7 linked regions of the Homo sapiens genome follow. The protein of the gene in region 7 interacts with the protein of the main gene of each other region in a pairwise test. Each region holds a gene or a part of one and is shown on either strand. Other genes may lie near its edges. The genes, in order: PADI4, PKN1, STAC, SMYD1, FOSB, IGFN1 and POU6F2.

What was found.
Region 1: the proteins of POU6F2 (region 7) and PADI4 interact in binary tests that used the Homo sapiens proteins (3 or more experiments, as listed by UniProt).
Region 2: the proteins of POU6F2 (region 7) and PKN1 interact in binary tests that used the Homo sapiens proteins (3 or more experiments, as listed by UniProt).
Region 3: the proteins of POU6F2 (region 7) and STAC interact in binary tests that used the Homo sapiens proteins (3 or more experiments, as listed by UniProt).
Region 4: the proteins of POU6F2 (region 7) and SMYD1 interact in binary tests that used the Homo sapiens proteins (3 or more experiments, as listed by UniProt).
Region 5: the proteins of POU6F2 (region 7) and FOSB interact in binary tests that used the Homo sapiens proteins (3 or more experiments, as listed by UniProt).
Region 6: the proteins of POU6F2 (region 7) and IGFN1 interact in binary tests that used the Homo sapiens proteins (3 or more experiments, as listed by UniProt).

What each region holds. Positions count from the first base shown.
Region 1 is NC_000001.11:17,360,197-17,362,350, forward strand, and holds part of PADI4 (protein-arginine deiminase type-4), read left to right. Parts: intron 1-2,154. UniProt on the Homo sapiens protein: Catalyzes the citrullination/deimination of arginine residues of proteins such as histones, thereby playing a key role in histone code and regulation of stem cell maintenance.
Region 2 is NC_000019.10:14,460,806-14,464,305, reverse strand, and holds part of PKN1 (serine/threonine-protein kinase N1), read right to left. Parts: intron 640-3,500; coding exon 564-639; intron 479-563; coding exon 337-478; intron 247-336; coding exon 153-246; intron 1-152. UniProt on the Homo sapiens protein: PKC-related serine/threonine-protein kinase involved in various processes such as regulation of the intermediate filaments of the actin cytoskeleton, cell migration, tumor cell invasion and transcription regulation.
Region 3 is NC_000003.12:36,481,504-36,485,003, forward strand, and holds part of STAC (SH3 and cysteine-rich domain-containing protein), read left to right. Parts: intron 1-1,488; coding exon 1,489-1,589; intron 1,590-3,473; coding exon 3,474-3,500. UniProt on the Homo sapiens protein: Promotes expression of the ion channel CACNA1H at the cell membrane, and thereby contributes to the regulation of channel activity.
Region 4 is NC_000002.12:88,066,497-88,070,624, forward strand, and holds the start of SMYD1 (histone-lysine N-methyltransferase SMYD1), read left to right. Parts: upstream 1-1,328; 5' UTR 1,329-1,368; coding exon 1,369-1,505; intron 1,506-4,128. UniProt on the Homo sapiens protein: Methylates histone H3 at 'Lys-4' (H3K4me), seems able to perform both mono-, di-, and trimethylation. Acts as a transcriptional repressor. Essential for cardiomyocyte differentiation and cardiac morphogenesis.
Region 5 is NC_000019.10:45,470,996-45,473,337, forward strand, and holds part of FOSB (protein FosB), read left to right. Parts: intron 1-198; coding exon 199-306; intron 307-1,555; coding exon 1,556-2,017; 3' UTR 2,018-2,342. UniProt on the Homo sapiens protein: Heterodimerizes with proteins of the JUN family to form an AP-1 transcription factor complex, thereby enhancing their DNA binding activity to gene promoters containing an AP-1 consensus sequence 5'-TGA[GC]TCA-3' and enhancing their transcriptional activity.
Region 6 is NC_000001.11:201,197,324-201,200,823, forward strand, and holds part of IGFN1 (immunoglobulin-like and fibronectin type III domain-containing protein 1), read left to right. Parts: intron 1-2,010; coding exon 2,011-2,055; intron 2,056-2,285; coding exon 2,286-2,331; intron 2,332-2,913; coding exon 2,914-3,088; intron 3,089-3,500.
Region 7 is NC_000007.14:38,984,409-38,987,908, reverse strand, and holds part of POU6F2 (POU domain, class 6, transcription factor 2), read right to left. Parts: intron 3,033-3,500; exon of another isoform or gene 2,988-3,032; intron 1-2,987. UniProt on the Homo sapiens protein: Probable transcription factor likely to be involved in early steps in the differentiation of amacrine and ganglion cells. Recognizes and binds to the DNA sequence 5'-ATGCAAAT-3'. Isoform 1 does not bind DNA.

The sequences.
Region 1 (2,154 bases), on a different chromosome or scaffold from region 7:
AGGAGAATCACTTGAACCTGGGAGACGGAGGTTGCAGTGAGCCAAGATCATGCTATTGCACTCCAGCCTGGGTAACAGAGTGAGACTTTGTCTCGGGAAAAAAAAAAAAAAAGACAGTCATCTTGAGCTAGTGAAGACCTGCTCTTTTTATAGCCAGAGTCCTCTGGTGAGGACTGATAGTAATAGAGTATGCCTGCTTATGTCCCTATCTGGTTGGGTGCAGTCTCTGTTGATTAGGCAAACATCTGGTTCCTGTTAGCATGGTGCCTTTTGAAATGTAAGATGGAGTCTTTTTCTAAGATGGAGTCACTTATGCCAAGGGTGCTCTATACAGGCTTGCATGGCCCTGTACCACTTCCAGAGCACCTTCTGGTATCTCACAACAATTCCAGAAGTCAGAGTCTATCGTCGCTTCTGCCAGGGCTCTGGCTTCAAACCCCATGCCGTAACTACCATGCTGCCTTCCCACGTAGCACCTTCCCTGGGGCTCCGGGGTGATGCAGGGGATGGAGGGATGGATAGGGAATCAACCAACAAACACGACACCCTCAAGTCACCTTATGCACCATAACAGGGACACACGTGGGGGCACCACCTCAGACTGGAGGGTCCGGGAAGGCCTCTGTGAGGAGGTGGGGCTGGCACTGCCTAGGCTGAGTGGGATTCACCTTCTGGAGGCTGCACTTGTGGGTGGTCCCACCTTTGTCTTGAGCGTTCACCGTGGCCCCTAAGTGCTGTCTTGATATCATCCATTGTGTTTTTGCCATTCCTTGGCCCCATTCCTCCCTCTCTTCAGAGCATACCCGAGACCGAGGCAGAGACTTCACCCGGTCCTACTGGGGAACCCCAGCCACCCCCTTCTTCTGGAGCTGGGGGTTACAGTTCAGGGAGGAGCCAGCAGGCCCTACCACCGTGGTTTTCAAACTGGGTTCCCACTCAGCCTAGGCAGTGCCAGCCCCACCTGGGGCTCCGGGGTGGTGCCTCAAATCCAGTGGTTCAGATTTTCTGTTTCTGCATTGACATTCTGCAAAAGATTGTGTGTAGAATAAAGGGTTCCTTGGCCAAAAGGAATTAAAGTATTGACCCCAAGCGTTTTGTTTCCCTCCAGTTTGGCCAAGCCAGGCTTCCCAGTGCGGGAATGAAAGTGGACGCCCGCGGCTATGGTAGTCAGCAACGCTGAGGGCTGACTGTGTGCCTTCACTGTTCAAGGTCCCCAGAGGGAGTCTGAGCATGAGACCAGACTCTCTCCCAGGAGCTGGCTGTGGGAGGCGGGGAAGAGGGAGTGATGAACAGTACGAGGCACTTAGCACGCATGGGCTGTGTCTAGGCGGTGGCCCCCTTGAGGACTCATGACCCATGGAAAATGGCTGTGCATCTACTGTGTGCCAGCACAGTGCTGTGCCTACATGTTCTTACCTAATTGTCATTGCAACGGAGATATGTGTTGGGCTCATTTTGCTGATGAGGCTCAGAGGGGTGATATGACTTGCCTAAGGCCACACAGCTATTGAATAGCAGAGTTAGGATTCAAACCCACATAGGCCTACAGCCAAAATCCCACCTTCCCACCTCACCAGGCCACCTGCCAATCTAATGGAGGAAGCAGAGTCATTTACATACATTATTTACATATGGAAAGTGCCATAACAGAGGCAGTCATTTATCTGTCTAGTCAACAGATGTTTATTGAGTGCCTACGACGTGCAAGGCGCAGTGCTGGGAGTTATGGGAACACAGAGCAGGAGTGACTGCCAGAGCTCAGGGATTCATGGGCAGTTTCACAGAGGGGCTGCCATCTGAGCTGGGCCCTGAGTAATAGAAAGAGTTTACCAGAAGGTGACAGGTAGGGGAGGAGAACGTAGTGTTAAGAGCATGGGCAGCATCAGAAAGAACGAAATCAGCCAGGAGGGGTGGCTCATACCTGTAATCCCAGCACTTTGGGAGGCTTAGGTGGGAGGATTGCTTGAGTCCAGGAGTTCAAGACCAGCCTGAGCAACATGGAGAAACTCTGTCTCTACAAAAAACACAAAAATTAGCCAGGCGTGGTGGCATCTGCTGAGGCAGGATGATTGCTTGAGCCCAGGAGGTGGACACTGCAGTGAGCTGAGATGGCACCACTGAACTCTAGCCTGGGTGAAGAGTAAGACCCTGTCT
Region 2 (3,500 bases), on a different chromosome or scaffold from region 7:
ACACGTTTTAACCAGCATAGAGATCTGGGCCCTGGTTCTGCCACAGACATGCTGCGTGGCTCCAGGGAAGTTCCTAGTGGTCTCTGAGCCTGGAGCAGGACCCCTGACGCTGCCCAGGCCAGGCCTACGGGGATAGAAGGGGGGACCCTCACCAGGCTCGATGGGCTGGAAGGAGGATCCCGCGAGCTCTTCTGAGGTGAGCTGTCCGAGTCAGTGCCGAGGTTCAGCTTCTCCACCGATATGTCACTGCAGCAGACGAGAGGAGGGTGTGTCTGGGACCCAGGACCCTCGCAGGCTTCAAGGGGCAGCCGGGACCATGGGGCCCTCCTTCCTTACCCCGTGGTCCGGGCCTCGGATCCTGGAGAAGCCCCAGGGCTAAAGGTGCCTGTGCCCGTGGCATTGGGGATGAGCCTCCGGAGCAGCCGCACCCACGTGGCGACATCGATGTTCATCTGCCTAGCACGCTGGAACGCCTTCCCTGGGGGGACGGGGCAGGCGTCACCCTCCATGACACTCCCAGGACCCCTGGCCTCTCCCCCAGGAAGCCTGGAGCACCCTCTCACCTTGCTGCTTGGAGAAAATTTTCTTCTGCCGTCGGAGCCGAGGAATCCTCTCAATGACAGGGTTGCGGAAGGTGACCTGGGGGAAGGGACCAAAATGTGAGGACCCTCTGCCCACCTGCAGGCAGACAGCTTGGTAAGGAAGCCCCTGGGAGCACAGGTGTGCGCGCCCAAGTGGGGTTCTGGTCACGTGGCATCAGATTCAACCCGAGTACCAGGTGACAATGAAGAGGTCATCGGTGCAACCCATGGCTCCCCTCCTGAAGGGACGTCTTGGAAAAGCAAGAAGCAAACAACCGGGTCCCTTTCTAGAGGTGGGGAGAGCATCTGACCCAACAAGACTGACAGACAGCGACTGCAAACGGACGCCACGCCATCCCACACCCCATTCCCCACATGTGCTCCCAGACCCCAGACCTGCAGTAGCAGCAACACCTGGGAACTTTCTAGAAACGCAGGTTTGACCTACTGAGCCAGAAACATGGAGTGGAGGAAGCGCGCGCATGCTCTCTCTCTCTCTCTATATATATATATATATACACACACACATATATATATATACACACATATATATATGCACATATGAGTAGTCCGATCTCGGCTCACTGCAGCCTCCACCTCCCGGGCTCAAGAGATCCTCCCACCTCAGCCTCCTGAGTAGCTGGGACTACAGGCACGCACCCCCATGCCTGGCAAATTGTTGTATTTTTGTAGAGACGGAGTTTCACCATGTTGGCCAGGCTGGTCCTGAACTCCTGGGCTCAAGCGATCTGCCCACTTTGGCCTCCCAAAGTGCTGGGATTACAGGCGCGAGCCACCGTGCCCGGCCCTAAAGCACTCAGTATTTCAACAAGCCCCCAGGCAATGCTGGTGCCCACCCATCTATGGAAGCCACCTGTCAAGTTGAATTCTCCCAACTCCAATACAACTTCTAGAAGGTGCTGAAGTCACAGAACTGCAGTGTCTGGTATGGTTGTCACATGTGGCGATTTAAATTAGTGAAAATGTCAGCGAAATTAAAACTTTGGTTCCCTGGTCACACTGGTCACACTTCAGATAGAGAACATTTCCATCTACAACAGAACTCAGCTACTGTGGGTGCATCGACAACAGAGCTGCAGAAAGTTCCTTTTTTCTTTGAGACTCTGTTGCCCAGGCTGGAGTGCAGTGGCGCAATCTGGGCTCACCACAACCTCCACCTCCCAGGCTCTAGAGATTCTCCTGCCTCAGTCTCCCGAGCAGCTGGGATTACAGGCACCCACCACCAAGCCCGGCTAATTTCTTTTTTTTTTTTTTTGAGACACAGTCTCACTCTGTTGCCCAGGCTGGAGTACAGTGGTGCGATCTTGGCTCACTACAACCTCCGCCTCCCAGGTTCAAGTGATTCTCCTGCCTCAGCCTCCCAAGTAACTGGGATTACAGGCGTGCGCCACCACACCTGGCTGATTTTTGTATTTTTAGTAGAGACTAGGTTTTTCCACGTTGGCCAGGCTGGTCTTGAACTCCTGACCTCAGGTGATCTGCCTGCCTACCCTCCCAAAGTGCTGGGATGACAGGCGTGAGCCACCGCACCCAGCCGAATTTTTGTATTTTTAGTAAAGACAGGGTTTCACCATGTTGGCCAGGCTGGTCTCAAACTCCTGACCTCAAATGATCCATCCGCCTCAGCCTCCCGAAGTATTGGGATTACAGGCGTGAGCCACAGCGCCCGGCCAGAGCTGCAGAAAAGTTCTATGGAAGAATGCTTCTGTATAGGCATAAAAACAAAATAGAATGCCACAGAGAGACCTTGAAGGCAAGGAGAAACGCTTTAGAATGTGTCCCCCAGGCCACCCACCATCACTTTCCATTTGGTTTGGGCTGTGTTCTGAATGGGAGAACAATTTTAAACCTCTGCCATCTGGAGTCAGCTCTTCTCCACGCCCCTTTCTTTCTTTCTTTTTTTTTTTTTTGAGACAGAGTTTCGCTGTTGTTGCCCAGGCTGGAGTGCAATGATGCGATCTCGGCTCACTGCAACCTTCATCTCCCAGGTTCAACTGATTCTCCTGCCTCAGCCTCCCGCGTAGCTGGGATTACAGGCGCCTGCTACCACACCCGGCTAATTTTTCTATTTTCAGTAGAGACGGGGTTTCACCATGTTGACCAGGCTAGTCTCGAACTCCTGACTTAGTGATCTGCCCGCCTCAGCCTCCCAAAGTGCTGGGATTACAGGTGTGAGCCACTGTGCCTGGCCCCGCCCCTTTCTTTCACTGGTGCTTGATGGTCAGACCAGGGGAGAACCTCTGCTTAGGGATATGGATATAGAGAGATGGATAAATAGACACAGAAAGAGACAGATATAGACGCAGGTAGATAGAGAGGGGCATGGACGGAAGGGTAGTTACAGATAGAGAAAGAGAGAGGGACTGATAGAGAAAGGGATTCATAGAAAGAGAAGGATGCATGGATAGATGGATGGATAGATAGATACAGCTATCGAGAGAAAAAGAGAGAGAGACACAGATAGATACAGAGAGGGATAGATAGAGACAGAGACAGGAATGGGTGGATATAAATAGAGATAGAGGAATATACAGAGATGGATGGATGGAGGGATGAGCATAGATAAGATAAATGGATGGATGGATAAGATGATAGATAGATAATATAGATGGATAGATAATATAGACAGATGGGTAGACGGAAAGATAGATTAGTTGATAGATAATATAGATGGATGGATAGATAGATATAGCTATATAGAGAAAAACAGAGGCACAGATAGATATAGAGAGGGATAGATAGAGATAGAGAGAGGAATGGGTAGATATATATACAGAGAAATATACAGGGATGGATAGATGGATGGATGATGCATACATAAGATTGATGGATAAGATGACTGACAGATAATAGAGACGGATGCATGGAAAAATAGATTGGTTGATAGATAATATATAG
Region 3 (3,500 bases), on a different chromosome or scaffold from region 7:
CTTTGGGTCTGTGGATGGCTGTGCTGTACAGTGGGGTATCTTGACTTCATGTCTCATACTACCTGGACATATTCATTCCTGTATCTCCCCTCTAAAGAGACTTACTTTGTTGAAATCCTGTTGTCTCTCCAGGTTGTCATCTTGCATAGCATTCTACATAATCCATATCTGATCCATGAGAATCACATACTTGTTGGACTCACCAACCCTTTTCCTAACAATCTTTTGGAGTGCAGGCCTTGTTCACACAGCTGTCTCCTCAGTAGGCTGACAGGACCCCTGGCCACCCACGTCTCTTATTTTTAGTTTTTTCCAAGAATGGGTATGGCCACAGCCATATGTCCCACAGACTCACATAGGTCAAGCTGTTAAAATAGTCTCCTTGAAACCCTCTCAGGACTGAGGAGACAACAGAGCACACCCCATCCTTCTCATCATGGTAAAGGAGGAGGGATAAGACTGATAGTGCCTCAACAACTCTGCAAAGAAATACTCTCTCCACTACCTCACCTTTCTTCCTCTTTTCTAATACATGAGATGCTTGGTCATCTAAGAGTGGCAAAAATACATTTTGGCACCTTTTTGAGACTTGCCTGGGAACCTACCATCTTACTTTGGGATATCAGAGCAGATGGCATTCTCTTGTCTGTGACTAGATGAAGGCAGAACACACCCATTTTAACATCCGTCTTAAGCTTTATCCAGCCACTTTCTGAAATAATGAACACCGGTGTGCAGCACCTGCCATCTTCCTGAAGCCCCCACACCCTGCCCTCTTATTAGGCCTCCCAGTTCCTCTCCAGTGCTCCTGCCTTGGGCCTTTGTGCATGAAGATACCAGGATGGCTCTCTGCCTTTTCTTCTCAGCCTTCTTTCTTCTCACTCCATGATAGCACCCTGTCCCAAGAAGCTAAGTGACTCACCGCAGCCACAATTTCATTATCATTCGCATCTTCTTCCTCTTTCCCCAGGCTGGGGTTGGCATCTGATTGAGTCCTCTCTCCCCTTCTTTAGAAGACTGTCAGCCCCACTCTCACACAGACCTGCCCTTCCCCCTTAATCAGTCATTTTCCTGAGAATTTATCCAACGGCTCAGTTCCTGTGATAGAAATACAGAAGAAAATACATCAAATTTCGGGACTTGCACTACTCAGTAAGACACAGAAAAGTAGAATTGAGTAACCTACATGAAAAGCAAAGAAAATGGAATTCACTAGCTTGAATTGAGAGAACAAAGGGCATGGAGGAGGCTTAGAGTTCCTGGAGTAGTGAATAGGAAAGATGGAGATAAACCAGAGTGTATACCTTAGGTAGAAAATGCAGGAGAAAGCAAAAGAATCTACCATATATATTTTTTTTCTATTTTGAAAGCTTCATGAAAAAGTTGTAGGAAAGAATTACCTGGGGAACCTCATTTTCTGTGATTTTAGACTAATCAGCAGGAAATGGCAGGTTGTATCCTAACCAAAGTTTGCCATGTACCTGACAGGAACAAATGCTAAGCATGGACTGCGCTGCAAAGCCTGTAAGATGAGCATCCACCACAAGTGCACAGATGGCCTGGCACCCCAGCGGTGCATGGGCAAGCTGGTAAGGGCTTGTGCCAGGAGTGAGGCCCACACCTCTCTGCTAGGGCACTTGCCTGCTGCAGTGAGATCACCCCCTCCAAAATCCTTCCCTGAAACCCTGAGCAAAGCACCCCAGAACTGGCTGCCAGCTTGGCTTCCTAATTGGCGTAATCAGAAAACAAGGACAAGGGCTTTGTCAACCCAATCAACAATGCCCCACCTTGAAAGGGAGTCAGGGTCATTAACAGAGTGACCAACTTCTCCCAGGTTGGCACTTTCTCAGTTTTAATACTGAAAGTCCCACATCCTGGGTCTGTTCAGGTTTTAAAAGTGAAAGTCATGCATCTCAGGAACCCCCTAAGTCCCAGGCAAACTAATGGTTGGTCACTCTAGTGCTTCCTTGGTGGTCAGCTCAGTGGGTAGCAAGAGAGGACAAGAGCTAAGCCCCCACAAAAGAGGAGAGAGTAATAAATATCTGCACCACTTTAACAGAATCTCCCAAACCAAGGGAGATTGAATGGCCCTTGAGATGGCTGATCATACCATCTCAGGAGGATGGGCTTCAGTCCTGGTGCCACATATTGATTAAGAGGCAATTCAAGCCAGGCACAATGGCTCACGCCTATAATCCCAACACTTTGGACACCAAGGTGGGTTGATCCCTTAAGCCCAGGAGTTCGAGACCAGCCTGGGCAACATGGCATGACCCTGTCTCTACAAAAATTTAAAAATTAGCTGAGTGTGGTGGTGTGTGCCTGTAGTTCCAGCTACTCAGGAGGCTGAGATTAGAGGATCGCTTGAGCCCAGAAGGCAGAGGTTTCAGTAAGCCATTATTGCGCAACTGTACTCTAGCTTGGGTGACAGTGAGAACCTGTCTCAAAAATTTTTTTTCAAAAAGCAATCCAGAGCGCATTTGAGGGTGTTTGAAACTAGGATGGCCAAAGAATTGTAGAAAGGACGAAGAATGTCTACCCTAGAGAATAATTAGACAGGACATCAACAGCTGTCTTCAACAATTTTAGACCTAAAATTTAGAAGAGTAACTCCATTGTCCTTTGAGGCTCCTGGGGAAAGACCTAAGATCAGTGGATACTAAGTCTTAACAATAAAAGATAATGTCTTGCTTCCAGGGTTAGTGAATGCTCCTTCACCCCCTCCCATCACTGACAGTGTAACGACAAGGGACACCACTTTCCAGGAACATTAGACAGGATTCTGGAATTCTAGAAGGGACTGGGCCACCAAGTTCCCATCCAGTAATGGAGTACAGTCAAGTCCAGGTTCTTAGTTTATCTATTTACTCTGATTTGCAATGTCTCTTTTCTCAAACCTCTGCCTCCCCTGCTTCCCCTTCTCCTTCTCCAGTGGTGATTCCCATAAGCCAAGACAGACCATGAAGGAGAGGTCAGAAAAACAGAGAATAGAATCCAGATTACAGAGCAAATGATTCTGGCTAAAGCTCTTCAGATATACAGGAGCTTTTAGGCCTCCCTCTGAGGTCCACTTACCCATGCCCAGGCCTTTTATTTATATTATTTTAACAAACCACAATAACAAACTGTGGTGAAATAATATGTGGCAGTCCACTTGTAATCCAGGAGGCAATGAGGATCTGGGATGCAAAGGAGGCTGCAGTGCACTGCAGGAGGAGGACAGACACGACTGGGGAGGCCAGGGCCAGGACCTTGTTTTCTGGATAGAGTGTAACTTGCTAGTTGCCACTATTCCTCCCTGCCTCTGTGTCCCTGCTGGGATTAAATTGTGGAATTATAGGATAAGTCGGCATGTTAATGGGAGACAGGAGGGTGCTCCTGGAGAAACCAATTGGTTTTATTTAGGGAGCTCTTGTATGGTTTTCTCCATCTCCAGTGACATTAACCCCTTGCCTTCCTCATTCTCTCTCCAGCCAAAGGGGTTTCGGCGTTACTACAGC
Region 4 (4,128 bases), on a different chromosome or scaffold from region 7:
AGGAACTAAAAATCTTACATGGAAGTCAAGCCAGAGCTCCAGATCTGCAAGTGTATTTCTTTTAAACCTCAGTAAAAGCTGCCTGATAGCCAAGAACAGTGGCATTTAGTTCAACGGGGATTTTAGATTCGTCTTTCCAGTGTCCTCACTCCTGAGTAAGAAGAAGGACAGAGCACGTTGGTATTTTCCTGGCAGCAGACACATGTTAAAGGAAATTTGATAGAAAGATAGAGATGGGGGTTGCTATTTTTATAGCCTGCCTTGTCTGTATCCAGCCTGCCTCCAGCATACCAGCATCACCAGCAGTGCTAAGAACAGGGAATTCCATGCTGTGGAGTAGGGGGTGCTGTAAGAGCCCCAGGTGATACTGGAGAGGAAAAATGCCCCCTTGGAGCCTAAATAGTACTGTTACGTATATGCCAAGGGCTCAGTTTAGCTTCTTCTTATTATTTATTTATTTATTTATTTATTTATTTATTAATTTTTTGTTGAGACGGGGTCCCACTCTGTCGCCCAGGCTGGAGTGCAATGGCGCGATCTCGGCTCACTGCAACCTCTGCCTCCCAGGTTCAAGCAATTCTCCTGCCTCAGCCTCCTCAGTAGCTGGGATTACAGGCGCCCGCCACCACGCCCAGCTAATTTTTGTATTTTTGGTAGAGACGGGGTTTCACCATGTTGGTCAGGCTGGTCTTGAACTCCTGACCTCAGATGATCCATGTGCCTCGGCCTCCCAAGGTGGGGATTACAGGCGTGAGCCACCGTGCCCAGCCCTCAGTTTAGCTTCTGCTGCTAAACAGTCCACCCTTGGGAGAGAGACTGAAAAGGGTGGGGCGAGGGCCCATCTCACTTGAGAAAGTGCAAGCCTGACAGCTGAAGGGTCCCAGAGCAGCAAATATCACCTTGTTTCTATGGGACCATTCCAGCTGTCTGCTTTTGATTGACAGAGGCATCTGGCTGCTAAAAATACCCTCCTGACCAAATGTTCCCTACTCCAACTAAAGCCGAACAGGATTGTTGCAGTTCAGAACTTAGCACATACAGATAGCTTCTGCTTGCAATGGAACCTCTCAAAACTTTTCAGGCCCTATGCCATATTAACCCATGGTCATTTTCTGTTCTGTCGGCTTTGCTGGGTGATGAATGAAACTCTTCCCAGTTCACTTGTTCTCTTGTCTGTCCCATCCCCACCTCCAGGAAAAGTAGCAGAGGGGGAGGTGAGGGCCCAGTAGCTGAGAGCGAGTAGGGAAGGGGAGGTGGCTTGTCCATTTATAGTCTTGCTCTTTGGGATGCTGAAGGTGCTGAAATAGCAATGACAAGAGACTTGGCTCAGTGTTAAATAACTGCCGCGCTGGCCTGACAGTCTCTGAGATGACAATAGGGAGAATGGAGAACGTGGAGGTCTTCACCGCTGAGGGCAAAGGAAGGGGTCTGAAGGCCACCAAGGAGTTCTGGGCTGCAGATATCATCTTTGCTGAGCGGGCTTATTCCGCAGTGGTTTTTGACAGGTATGAAATGTGGGGAGTTGCCTTCTCTCCTGTTAGTTTGGCTGGGGCCAAACTCTAAAATACTTTGCTCTCAAAAATCATCAGGGGAAGGGATAAAATTCATGTGCTCTTTTTTCAACAAAATGGCACTTCTGAGAGCTAATTTTTCTGGCACAAATTTTTCTGCAAGGGATCATTGCCAGTGTGATTTGCTGTGGCTCCTAGAAGGGTGGTGAAGGTGAGCAAAGGCTTCGGGGGCACTTTCTCCCAATACTGGCCAACTTGGCTGAGAGGGTGTGCTGGGAGTGGAAAGGTGGGTGTGGTGCTGTGGGAAACATTTTCCGACAGAAAGCTCTATATTTTTAGCTTTCTTTTTATTATAAATACATTACCAGATAAAGTAATTGCTGAGACTTTAAAAATTATGAACTATTTGTATATTTATAATTATGAATAACCCAGGAATCCACTTTCCCTTGAAAAATCTGAGTATCACCCAATCCCAGTCCCCTCTGTCTTTCCTCAGATATTACCCCTGCTATTATTTCAATGTATTTCCTTCTAGAATGTTCCTGTGCTATTACATACATATATCTGCACTTAACAAGATGGATGGCTGTAGTCTGTCTGGTTTTTTTTTTTTTTTTACAGAAATGGTGTCATACTTCAGATGTCATTTTAGAACTCACTCTTTTCCCTAAACAACACGTTTTTGATGTCTATCCTTGCAGGAACTTTAAATCTATAGATACTTCTTTTAAATTCCAAAGATCTATTTCCTTTATAGAGCTATCCATATAGATTCATATGCCATATGAATCATCAATCTTAATTTTAAATATTTCATCCTATAAATATATGACATTTTATTTATCCATTCCCCTATTGAGAGACAATTGGTAGTTTTTAATTTTTCATGAAATAAAATGAAAATCCTTGATCGTGTCTACCTGTACATATGTTCGATTGTTCTCCAGGGCACAGGACTAGAAGAGGAATTGCTGGGCCGTAGGATGTGATGTTTTCAGTTTTATAGGCTCTCCAAACAGGCTCTATTAAATTTACATTCCCGCTTCCTCACGACCTTGGCCACACTAGACTACCAAGCTTTTAAATTAGTAATAAATCTTCATTTTAAACAAACCTACATGGTGATTACATTAAATTGTCAATATTTTCTGAGATCAAGGTTGGGGTGACCTGCTTGACATCTATGTGGTTTGAGTCTGATAACCTAGGCTTTGTGGTTGGCTGGCTGCACTGACCACCCTGGGAAAGGGCACTGCTTCCCACAGATAACTTGATTAGTATTCACATTCTCTTGTCTTCCTGCCCACTAAGACCTTCAGGGAAAAGGGTGTGAACTGGGGCATATGGCTCACCACCACTTGAGGAAAATAAGGGGCTGAGGTGACTTTTTCAGGGGGAGCTTGTCTTATTTCATTAATCTGTGTGTGTGTATGTGTATGTGTCAGGGGAGGGGTGAGTACAGTTAGGGAGCCAGCTGGATTCAGAGTGAAAACAACCCAGAAACACAGGGACTGTCAACACTAATTCTGGCGCTGCCAGTGAGTTACTGCCTGGCCTTGTGAAGAACATCTCCATTTGCTGCTTCCAATTCCCCAAAGTCAATCTAGCCAATCAGTTCCATTTCAAGAAGGTTAAAGTTGAATGGGCTTTCATTCCATTATAAAAGCAAGGCATTGTCATTTTAGAAAATTTAGAAAGATAAGACATCACACAGCGATAACCACTCTTAACATGTTGGGTATCTATTTTCGGTTTGTTTTAAAACATAGGTTTCATTTGGCTGTAATATACTCATTATACAAGCTATTATGCTTTTTCATTTAATAATTTTGACATCTTCTGTGCTATTATACACTCTTCAGAGACATAGTACTTAAGGGCTACGTCTTCTTCTATTACCTGCTGATGACTGGCCATTTGGATTGTTTCCATGTTTTTGTTATTATAAATAATTTGTCATTCATTTGAAGTAACAACTATAAAAACACCTTCATATACATTGCAGATAAATGCTACATAAAATCATATATTATTTTTACAATGGTAATAAAAGTGGGATAATTGGTATAAATGACGTTTAAAATGATTGAAAAAAAATCTAAAAGAGATAGTTTTTTTTTCAAAAAATGCTTTACCCAAACTTGTCACTGCATAGATGAGGGAGCTGTGCTTTCTTTGGTTATACCAGAGACAGCCCAAAGAGGCATTAAAGGAAAGTTTTATGCATTTTAGGCTCCTGGTGAGGCTCAGCCACCATAGATGAGAAACTTGATTGCAGAGGTGGGACTGAGTCACCCACAAAAGTCACTGTACAAAACTGGCTTGTTTTAATCCATCTTACTGCAAGACAGGCTTTCCTACTCTTCCACACAAATGTGGAGAAAGATTTTATTTTTAGTTGAGCACTGCATTAAATGAAAATTAATTCTTTCAAACAGTGTGTATTATATATTCTAACATATATATTATATGTTATATTGTATATATTCTAACATATATTATATAAAGCATAGCAATAAATCAACACCAAACCAACTTAACTAGAATATTCCAATATGTTACATCTTCTCTATCCTGTTGCATGCCTGCTCCAAAGGTAATTATCCTAGGTTTT
Region 5 (2,342 bases), on a different chromosome or scaffold from region 7:
GAGGCAGGAAGTTTCTTATGAATGGAGGGGGGCTCCACTAAGGCCTCAGTGTTACAGAAACCCCAAGATCCTTGCTACACGAGCGAGGACCGGAGGCTTGTTTTTTGGCTCTTGGGGGTTCTGAAAGAAGTAGAGGTTCGGGATGGGTGGAGGAGTGCTGTATCCCCAAATCTCATGGCCTCTATCTCCCTGACTCAGCTCACCCCAGAGGAAGAGGAGAAGCGAAGGGTGCGCCGGGAACGAAATAAACTAGCAGCAGCTAAATGCAGGAACCGGCGGAGGGAGCTGACCGACCGACTCCAGGCGGTGAGGACAGGCCCTGGGGTGGGAGAGGGGATGTTGAGGGGAGCTCTCTCCCCATTCTCTGCCCCCTCTCCACCTGTACCCTTATCCTGGGTTGAGAACTAGACGTTCCACACATGGAACTAGGTACTGCTGTGGCCAGACTGGGTAGCCCAGGGCACAAACACAGACCCCCATGGACTTAAGTCAACTCCTGGTCCCCCCCCCATTTCCTGACCCCACGGACTACTCTCCTAGCCTTCATTTCATCCCAAGGGGCCACATGGGGCCCTTGAGGAGAGGGGCGCCCCCATCATTTCTCCCATCTGGTCTTCAGCAAGTAACAACCCATTTTGCCTCAGTTTCTCCATCTCTGCAAACCCTCATCAAATCTCCCGGGCTCTTTCTACCCTTAACACTCTGGAAAGCCTGTGAAATGAAATTATTCCACCTCCTGCCCTAGCCACCCACAGCTCTCCTGGTGCTGGTGGCATCCCCCAAAACCCACTCCCTTCCTACGTCCTCCCTTGGTCTGAGAGTTCCCTGCTGTATGCCTGCAGGGTGAGCTGTTACTCCTTGAGGGAACAAGGGAATTGTCAACTTTCCTTCTCTACTTTTTCTCTTCCCCGGGAGGTAGAGAGGGAGGGGTAATAGAAGGGAACACATTAAAAACACATAACAGTGGCTCATGCCTGTGATCCCAGCACTTTGAGAGGCCAAGGCAGGAGGATTGCTTGAGCCCAGGAGTTTGAGACCAGCCTGGGAAACATAGGGAGGACTTGTCTCTACCAAGAAAAAAAAAAATTAGTTGGGCATGGTGGTGCACACCACTGTGGTCCCAGCTACTATGGAGGCTTTAGTGGGAGGATCGCTTGAGCCGAGGAGGTCCAGGCTGCAGTGAGCCATGATTGCACTATTGCACTCCAGCCTGGGGGACAGAGCGAGACTCTGGCTCAAAAGCAAAACAAAACCAACCACATAACGATTGTTCATTCATTCAACAAACCTCCTGCACACCAGAAACTTCCCCATAAACCTGGCCCCTTCTGTACCATCCTTTGGACAGATGGGGGAAACTGAGGTTCCTGGAAGGCAAGACCCTTGCCCCAACTCCCATGGCCACCAGGACTCCATCTCAGGAGGTGTTTTTTCTCAGCCCGGGGCTGCCTTCCAGCAGCAAGTCCAAGGGAGCCATGACCCGAGTTTCCCGGTCACTGACATGCTTTTTTCTCCTTCCTCTCTCTCTTCTGTGACCTGGCCTCCCTGGCCTCAGGAGACAGATCAGTTGGAGGAAGAAAAAGCAGAGCTGGAGTCGGAGATCGCCGAGCTCCAAAAGGAGAAGGAACGTCTGGAGTTTGTGCTGGTGGCCCACAAACCGGGCTGCAAGATCCCCTACGAAGAGGGGCCCGGGCCGGGCCCGCTGGCGGAGGTGAGAGATTTGCCGGGCTCAGCACCGGCTAAGGAAGATGGCTTCAGCTGGCTGCTGCCGCCCCCGCCACCACCGCCCCTGCCCTTCCAGACCAGCCAAGACGCACCCCCCAACCTGACGGCTTCTCTCTTTACACACAGTGAAGTTCAAGTCCTCGGCGACCCCTTCCCCGTTGTTAACCCTTCGTACACTTCTTCGTTTGTCCTCACCTGCCCGGAGGTCTCCGCGTTCGCCGGCGCCCAACGCACCAGCGGCAGTGACCAGCCTTCCGATCCCCTGAACTCGCCCTCCCTCCTCGCTCTGTGAACTCTTTAGACACACAAAACAAACAAACACATGGGGGAGAGAGACTTGGAAGAGGAGGAGGAGGAGGAGAAGGAGGAGAGAGAGGGGAAGAGACAAAGTGGGTGTGTGGCCTCCCTGGCTCCTCCGTCTGACCCTCTGCGGCCACTGCGCCACTGCCATCGGACAGGAGGATTCCTTGTGTTTTGTCCTGCCTCTTGTTTCTGTGCCCCGGCGAGGCCGGAGAGCTGGTGACTTTGGGGACAGGGGGTGGGAAGGGGATGGACACCCCCAGCTGACTGTTGGCTCTCTGACGTCAACCCAAGCTCTGGGGATGGGTGGGGAGGGG
Region 6 (3,500 bases), on a different chromosome or scaffold from region 7:
TTTTCCCTGAGTTTGTCTCATCAGTGCACAGGGCAGAGACCCACAGAGGAATCAGATGCCCCGTGGCTAGTGAGGGAGGGGAGGGGAGGGAAGGGAGGCCCATCCAGGCTGCTGCCGCTGCTGCAGCCCCACCTTGTGCTGGGCCCCGGGCTTCATCCACATGCACACTGAGTCTGCATGTGTTTAAAAAGGCACACCTTGGCAGATACTCTGAAGGATATTCTCTTGGCCCAGTAAATGAGCAGGACCTGAAAGCTGGCTTCTAGTCCTAGAGCTTCTGCTAACTCATTCAATGGGCTTCGTTTTCCTCTCTGGGTCTCAGTTTCTCCACCATGCAAAGGATATTTTGGACAGGCCTATGCCAGAGTTGACAAACAGGTCACACAAAGGCCAAATTCTCTCTCAGACATGTTTTTTTTGGTGTGCGTGGTGTTTGAAATTTTAAAAATTGTCAACCTGTAGTAATTAAAAGGTAGATATCTCTTGAGGAAGCAGGTCTAGTCTCGCCATTGGTTATGCTTACAATTGATCTGCCTGCAACTAACAGAAAATCCTACTAAGAGCAGCCTAAGAAATAACGATATTTCATTCCTTCACATAAGAAGTTTTGCGAGTGGCGTCCAGGGCTCATACCACAGCTCAGGGCTGCCATCGGAGAGCTGATTCCTTCGTTCCCACTGCTCTGCCATCCTTAGCAGATTGGCTTATCACCTCATGGCCATAAGAGGGCTGTGGCAGATTCAAACATAATCCATGTTCAAGGTAGGAAGGTGGAAGAGGTGGCCCAGGTCCATCTGCCTCTCTTATTTTTATTTTTATATTTTTGAGATGGACTGGAGTCTTGCTCCATCGCGTAGGCTGGAGTACAGTGGCACAATCTCACCTCACTGCAACATCTGCCTCCCGGGTTCAAGCAATTCTCCTGCCTCAGCCTCCTGAGTAGCTGGGATTACACGCGTTTACCACCATGCCTGGCTAATTTTTGTATTTTTAGTTGAGACAGGGTTTCACCACGTTGGCCAGGCTGGTCTCGAACTCCTGACCTCAGGTGATCCACCTGCCTCGGCCTCCCAAAGTGCTGGGATTACAGGCATGAGCCACTGTGCTTGGCCTTTTATTTTCTATTTTTTGAGACCTGTTGCCCAGGCTGGAGTGCAGTGGTGTGATTATGGCTCACTGCAGCCTTGACCTCCCAGGCCCAAGTGATCCTCCCACCTCAGCCTCCCAAGTAGCTGGGACTACATGCATGTGTCATCACACCCAGCTAATTTTTTTATTTTTTTTGTAGAGGCGGGGTCTCCCTGTGTTGCCCAGGCTGGTCTGGAACTCCTGGGCTCAAGCTATCCTCCCCCCTCGGCCTCCCAAAATGCTGGGATTACAGGCATGAACCATCACGACCAGTCCATCCACCCTTTTTATAGAGGAAGCAAAGGCTTTCTCAGAAATTCCTGGAGCTCATTGGTCAGGACAGTGTCACATGAGCACTGCTAGTTGCAAGGGAAGCTGGGGAAGGTGAGTGTTTAGCTTTTTCAGCCTCTCTAGTGGAAGCAGATGATGAAGAATACAAATGGCTGCAGGATTAGCCAAACAGCAATGTCTGACCTATTTGGCAATATTGGGCCTATACCCTGAAATGGCAGCTCCCAGGTGGAGTGAAAGAGCAGCTGCCCCTTTAGATACTCTTGAGTTTGTTGTGGTTGCCAGTGTCTGCTTCACGCATTTATGCCACCTCCCTGGCCCCTGCGGACACATGACTGGGCCTCCCCTGCATGAGATGATGCTTAGGTTGGTCCCCTTGGTCATGGTAAGGCTCTAGGGTAAAAAGGCTTATGATGGACAGACCCTCCACCCTGCTCCATCCCTCTTGCTGGGATCGTCCACGCCTTAGAGGACAGTGGGGAGAGCAGGGCTCTGGGACTCCATCAGTTTCTCAGGAAGACCATCAACATGTCTTGCTTCTCTCCCTGCTTGTCCACATCGACTCCTTCCTCTCCTCCCTGGATGTTGCAGTTGGCTTTCGGAAGAATCGGAAGAGGCACAGGGAACCGCAGGAAGGTAGGCAGATTTGTCAGAAACCTCCTTGGGGGCCTGTGGGGGATAGGCTACTCCTTTCCTGGTGTTCCCTGCCTGGTTGAGCTACCATGAACACCTTGTGGATCACCACCAGTCTTCAAGAGAGCCCCTTCCAAAGGCTCAGTTGTCAGCATGGACAACACAGAAAAGCTCTGCATCAACCCTCAGTCATCCCACCTGGGACTGAGGCCTCATTCCTGCTCCTTTTTCAGACCTCAGGAAGGAGCTGATGGACTTCCGGAAGTTGCTGAAAAAGAGGTGGGTTTGGGCCTGTCCATGAGGGATTTTGGAGGCTCCCATAGTATTCACCCCCTGCTATTTCCATAAGTAAGCTGGGCTTGAGCCCCACCTCTACCCAACACAGCAGGGAGCTAGACTGCCAGTAGCAGATGGGAGGATGGGAAGGGGACTGAACTGGATGGGAATGGGACAGAGCTCCAGCTCTGCCATTTCAAAGCTCTATATCCTTGAGTTAATCATCTCTCCTCTGATTTCCTCATTTGCAAAATGTGGTGGTCCACCAGAACAATGATGTACTTTTTTTTTTTAAGCAACAGAACAATGCAACACCCACTTTCCCCAGACATCCTACTTAGAAATCTACAATACAAGTTGTCAGGAGCATTTCTCCTGAAAGTTGTGGGGTGAGGCTGAGGCTCGCCCCACCCATCTCTGAATCCTTCTGGCCTCAACAGTGGTCAGTCCCAGAGATTCCAGGCTCTGCGTTTCCTCGAGTGCAGATAGAGCAGCTTCCCAGAACTACTTGGGACACCAGAGCCAGGTGGCCAACAGAGGAGCAGGGATTCCTCTGGCCTCTGACCTGCTAGCCTTGCTCCCCAGGGCCCCACCAGCCCCCAAGAAAAAGATGGACCTTGAGCAGATATGGCAGCTGCTGATGACAGCAGACAGGAAGGACTACGAGAAGATCTGCTTGAAGTATGGCATCGTCGACTACCGTGGCATGTTGCGCAGGCTGCAGGAGATGAAGAAGGAACAGGAGGACAAGATGGCACAGGTGCCTCACCCCATTCCCACCCCTCACTCCATGCCCACCCCACACACCTGGACCATAGGTGCCTCACACCTGGAGGTGGGCTTGGAGGCAGAACTTAGGAAACCAAGTATGATCAAGGGGCCTGTCTCCATCTAGTCCCCAGTGGGGTATCTGGCTAAGGCCCTGGGATCCCAGGTTGGTGTCCTGCCTTTGCAACCTGGTTCTGATACTTACTAAACTCTGGAGCTTTGGAAGGGTTAGGGCCTCTGTATCTTGGTGTCTTCATCTGTAAAATGGGAATTATAGTCATGCCTACCTTGTAGGGTTATTGGGAGGATAAATGAGAGAATGTAATTAAAGTACTTAGCTTAGTGCCTTGATTTTTGCTATCATTATCATTGTCACCAGATTGCGGGGGGGAGGTACCTGGTTT
Region 7 (3,500 bases):
ACCCAATGGACAGTTCCATAGGCTCAATTCTGGAAGTCTGTGTAGGGAAAGATGGCATGGTCAGCTCACACTCCCATCTTTTATTCAAATATAAGATTTCATTACCACCTACGTTACTGTCTTCTTAGTATATGTGAGGTGACGTAATTAAAGAGAACGAGCAGAGACATATCCTAAAAGAAACGTAAAACATAACTTTTTACATTCTCTGGAATATTTCAATAATGTACACTTTGTCTACCTTCTCAGAACCCTAAATTAGTAGAATTCAAGAGCTAAGTCTCATTACATGTTTTTATTTAGCCCTGCTTGTGACTGCATTATTTAACTTATGAATCAGGGTTGAAGGATTGGTCTGACAATATGAAATACAGAAAACAGAAATTTAACTGACATTAATTACCATGAATTTCTTCTGGTCTCTTTTTCACTAATCTAGATACACTAACTGAATCATGCATTGGAAACATACATCTATGTCAATTATCTTAATAAACAGCATTGAGGCTCATGAAAGAAAATAACAAGCATTTTGTTCAGTTGAGTTTGGTGGCTTGGAGCAAACATAAAGGTTTTCAAGTCACAGTGTGTCTGACTGAGAACCAGCTCTTTACGCCATTCTCTGTCATTCTTACCTCTTTGTTACTAAATAAAATATTGTGATCTTTATTGCTATTTTAATTGGTTTGAGTATTCAATATATAGATGATAAGTATCTTTTCTTGTGGCATAAAGCTACTCTTCACTTTTAACATTACACTTAACCTTCTCTCAGGAGACACTATTTATGAGTTCTTCTGCTCAAACAAATCCTATTTGGAAAATTCTGAAATCTTTTATGTTAAGAGAAATGAAACTTCTCTACTTGTTAGACTGATTGCAGAGACTAACTTATTTTTAAAAGCTAGATCAAGAGAGAACTGGTTAAATAAATCACTGTATATCCATAAAAGGGAGTACTACAGAGAAGGATGCAGATCTATTCATAGTCACATGAGAAGAGGTTCAAAATATTTTTTATATGTAAAAGTAAGTTGCAGAACTCTATGTATAGTATAGTTCTACTTGGGTTGTGTAAGGATTGCATATACATGCACAGAAAATCTCTGGAAGGATATATAAGAAATAGTTAACAGTGGTTATTTGTGGCGAGTGGAATCAGGATACTTTACTTTCCACTTTATATTATTCTGTGCTATTGCAATGGTTTGCCATATGCAGAAATTACTGTTATAATTTTTTAGTAAAAAATTCAAAAATACTCATAGGAGTCTACCATGTAATTAACTCACTTCAATCACGTGCATATAAGAATTGCGTTCATGTACTGTCACTTTTACTCAGATGTTCCACTCTCTGCCTGAACTAGCTGTTTAAATTCTATTTGATAAATAAAGGTAGAAAGGGAGAAAGCAATTGCAGTTGATAGGTTTCAGCACTAGTACAAATGGCAGTACATTGCAAACCAAAGAGCCCCCCTGTTTTTGGAAGGAAATAACCACAATATTCATACGTTTGCAGTTTTCCAATCGACTATGTACTCGAATTCTTACCACAAACTTGATGTTTAACAGCTGCAAAGTACTACTCAGGAGGCTGAGGTGGGAGCGTCTCTTGAGCCCAGGAGTTCACAGCCAGCCTCAGCAACATGGCAAGACCTCATCTCAAAACAAAAACAAAAAAGTTGCAAAGTATTTTTCCATTCTCAACCAAGTTGAGAGGAGTATTTTAAGTAAACATCTGTCATAATTTTTTCAGGTACTAAGATTGAAAACAGAGACAAAATATTTTTAGATTATTAGAGGTTAAATAGTCAAGTATTCCCAAAATGTTTAAAGTATGTCTGTGAGTGTGCGTGTGTGTTAATGAATTAGATTGCTAGACTGCCTCATTTTCATTTTTACTCTAAATTCTTTCGTCACTAGGAATCTAGATATAGGTTTGTTTACAAATGAAAAAAGTTTTCAGAAAAGAAATCACAACTTTAGTTCTTGAATTGAGGATTAATATATTACCTAGGAACAATGTAGGACTGTTTGGGATTTGAGCCATATTAGCCTTCGTTCCCAGAAACCTTCTGAATATTACTACAAACACCTCTTGTATTAGCAGTTCTAGAAATACACCAAGAAATGCACCTAAGAATGTGTAAAGACTCACTTTGTTCAAGAAATATTGAAACAGAGAAAATGAATACAGCAGAGATTTACTTTTAAGACCCTGGAACACCATCTGCTGATATGAACAGAGAGAAATTTTCAAACTTGGCATTCTTATATCACAGCCAAACTTTCACAAAATCTCTTATTTTTCTCAAATTCTGACCTAGGGCATTTCATCCCACAATCATCACTTCTGCCCACCATTCAACCAGCATCTTGTCAAATCTGGCTGCAAGATTAAGTTTCCCGATTCGGAATTCAATATTGTAACCCTAAGGATATAAGATTCAAGCTGGAACATTCTGGATTTTTTTTTAATGGATAAAATTGTTTCGGCCCAAAGACCAGAGTTCGCCCTGACCATAATGATGAATCATCAGGACTGACACTAAGTGAAATGAGTTTGATGTTCTTGTTTTATTTGTGCCCATTAAGCAGCATTTTACATTTGTCCTAACTCTCAACCTTTTGGAGAAAAGGTTGAAAGAGGCTTGTTTTCTAGTATTATTTAAGACTTACAAAATTAACTAGCTGTGTCTGAAGCAAGTTTGGCGTGCCATAGTCCCTACTATTGTGTGTCCAGCTCCATTCTTGCCCATTCTGCCCTTCCAATTTGGAGGAAAAGAACTGAAGAATTAAGAAATATCTACTTTTCTCATATTTCCTCAGTATCAATTACGGCTTCTGGTATCCTTGCTTCTGTCTTGGTACAATATTTACCTTTTACTCTCAACAAAAACCTACTTCCTTTAAAAAAATCTGTATATGAATTCTGCACTGAAAACTAAGCTCCCTATAAATGTTGTGCTTTGTTCTTTTGAACAGGAATTTGCCTGAGTTCTGATCAATGCTAAAAACACCATTTAACAGGTATGTATTCTTTTAAAAATATACCTGTTTCTCTAAGTTTTTAGATGTTAGAGATAAATATTTTCTTCTAAAAATAGTTTTAAATTATTCATCAAAAATCAAAGTCATAAAATATGCAGGGTCAACATCATATTAAACTCCAGAAATAATAAGTACTATTTCACAGCATCGGAGCACTGGCTAACCTCTTGTAAAAACTCTAAAGATTTAAAGAAAAGTTTTCCTTAATATTGAAATTTGTGTACAGCACAAGCACTGTGAGGCCTTTTCTTAGACTTTGTTTTTTAATTCTAGTTTTCCTGTGCTAACGTATTATTTCACTGTATTTTTTGTGTGTGATTTGAATTGCTAGGTGAGATGAGGTAAGCTTACAAAATAACTTAGAAATATAAACTAAAGAAGCAAGTATATTGGTGAGTTTTCTGCTGCCTTTTTGCTTTGTTTTGCTCGAGGTCTTGTCTCTCTTTC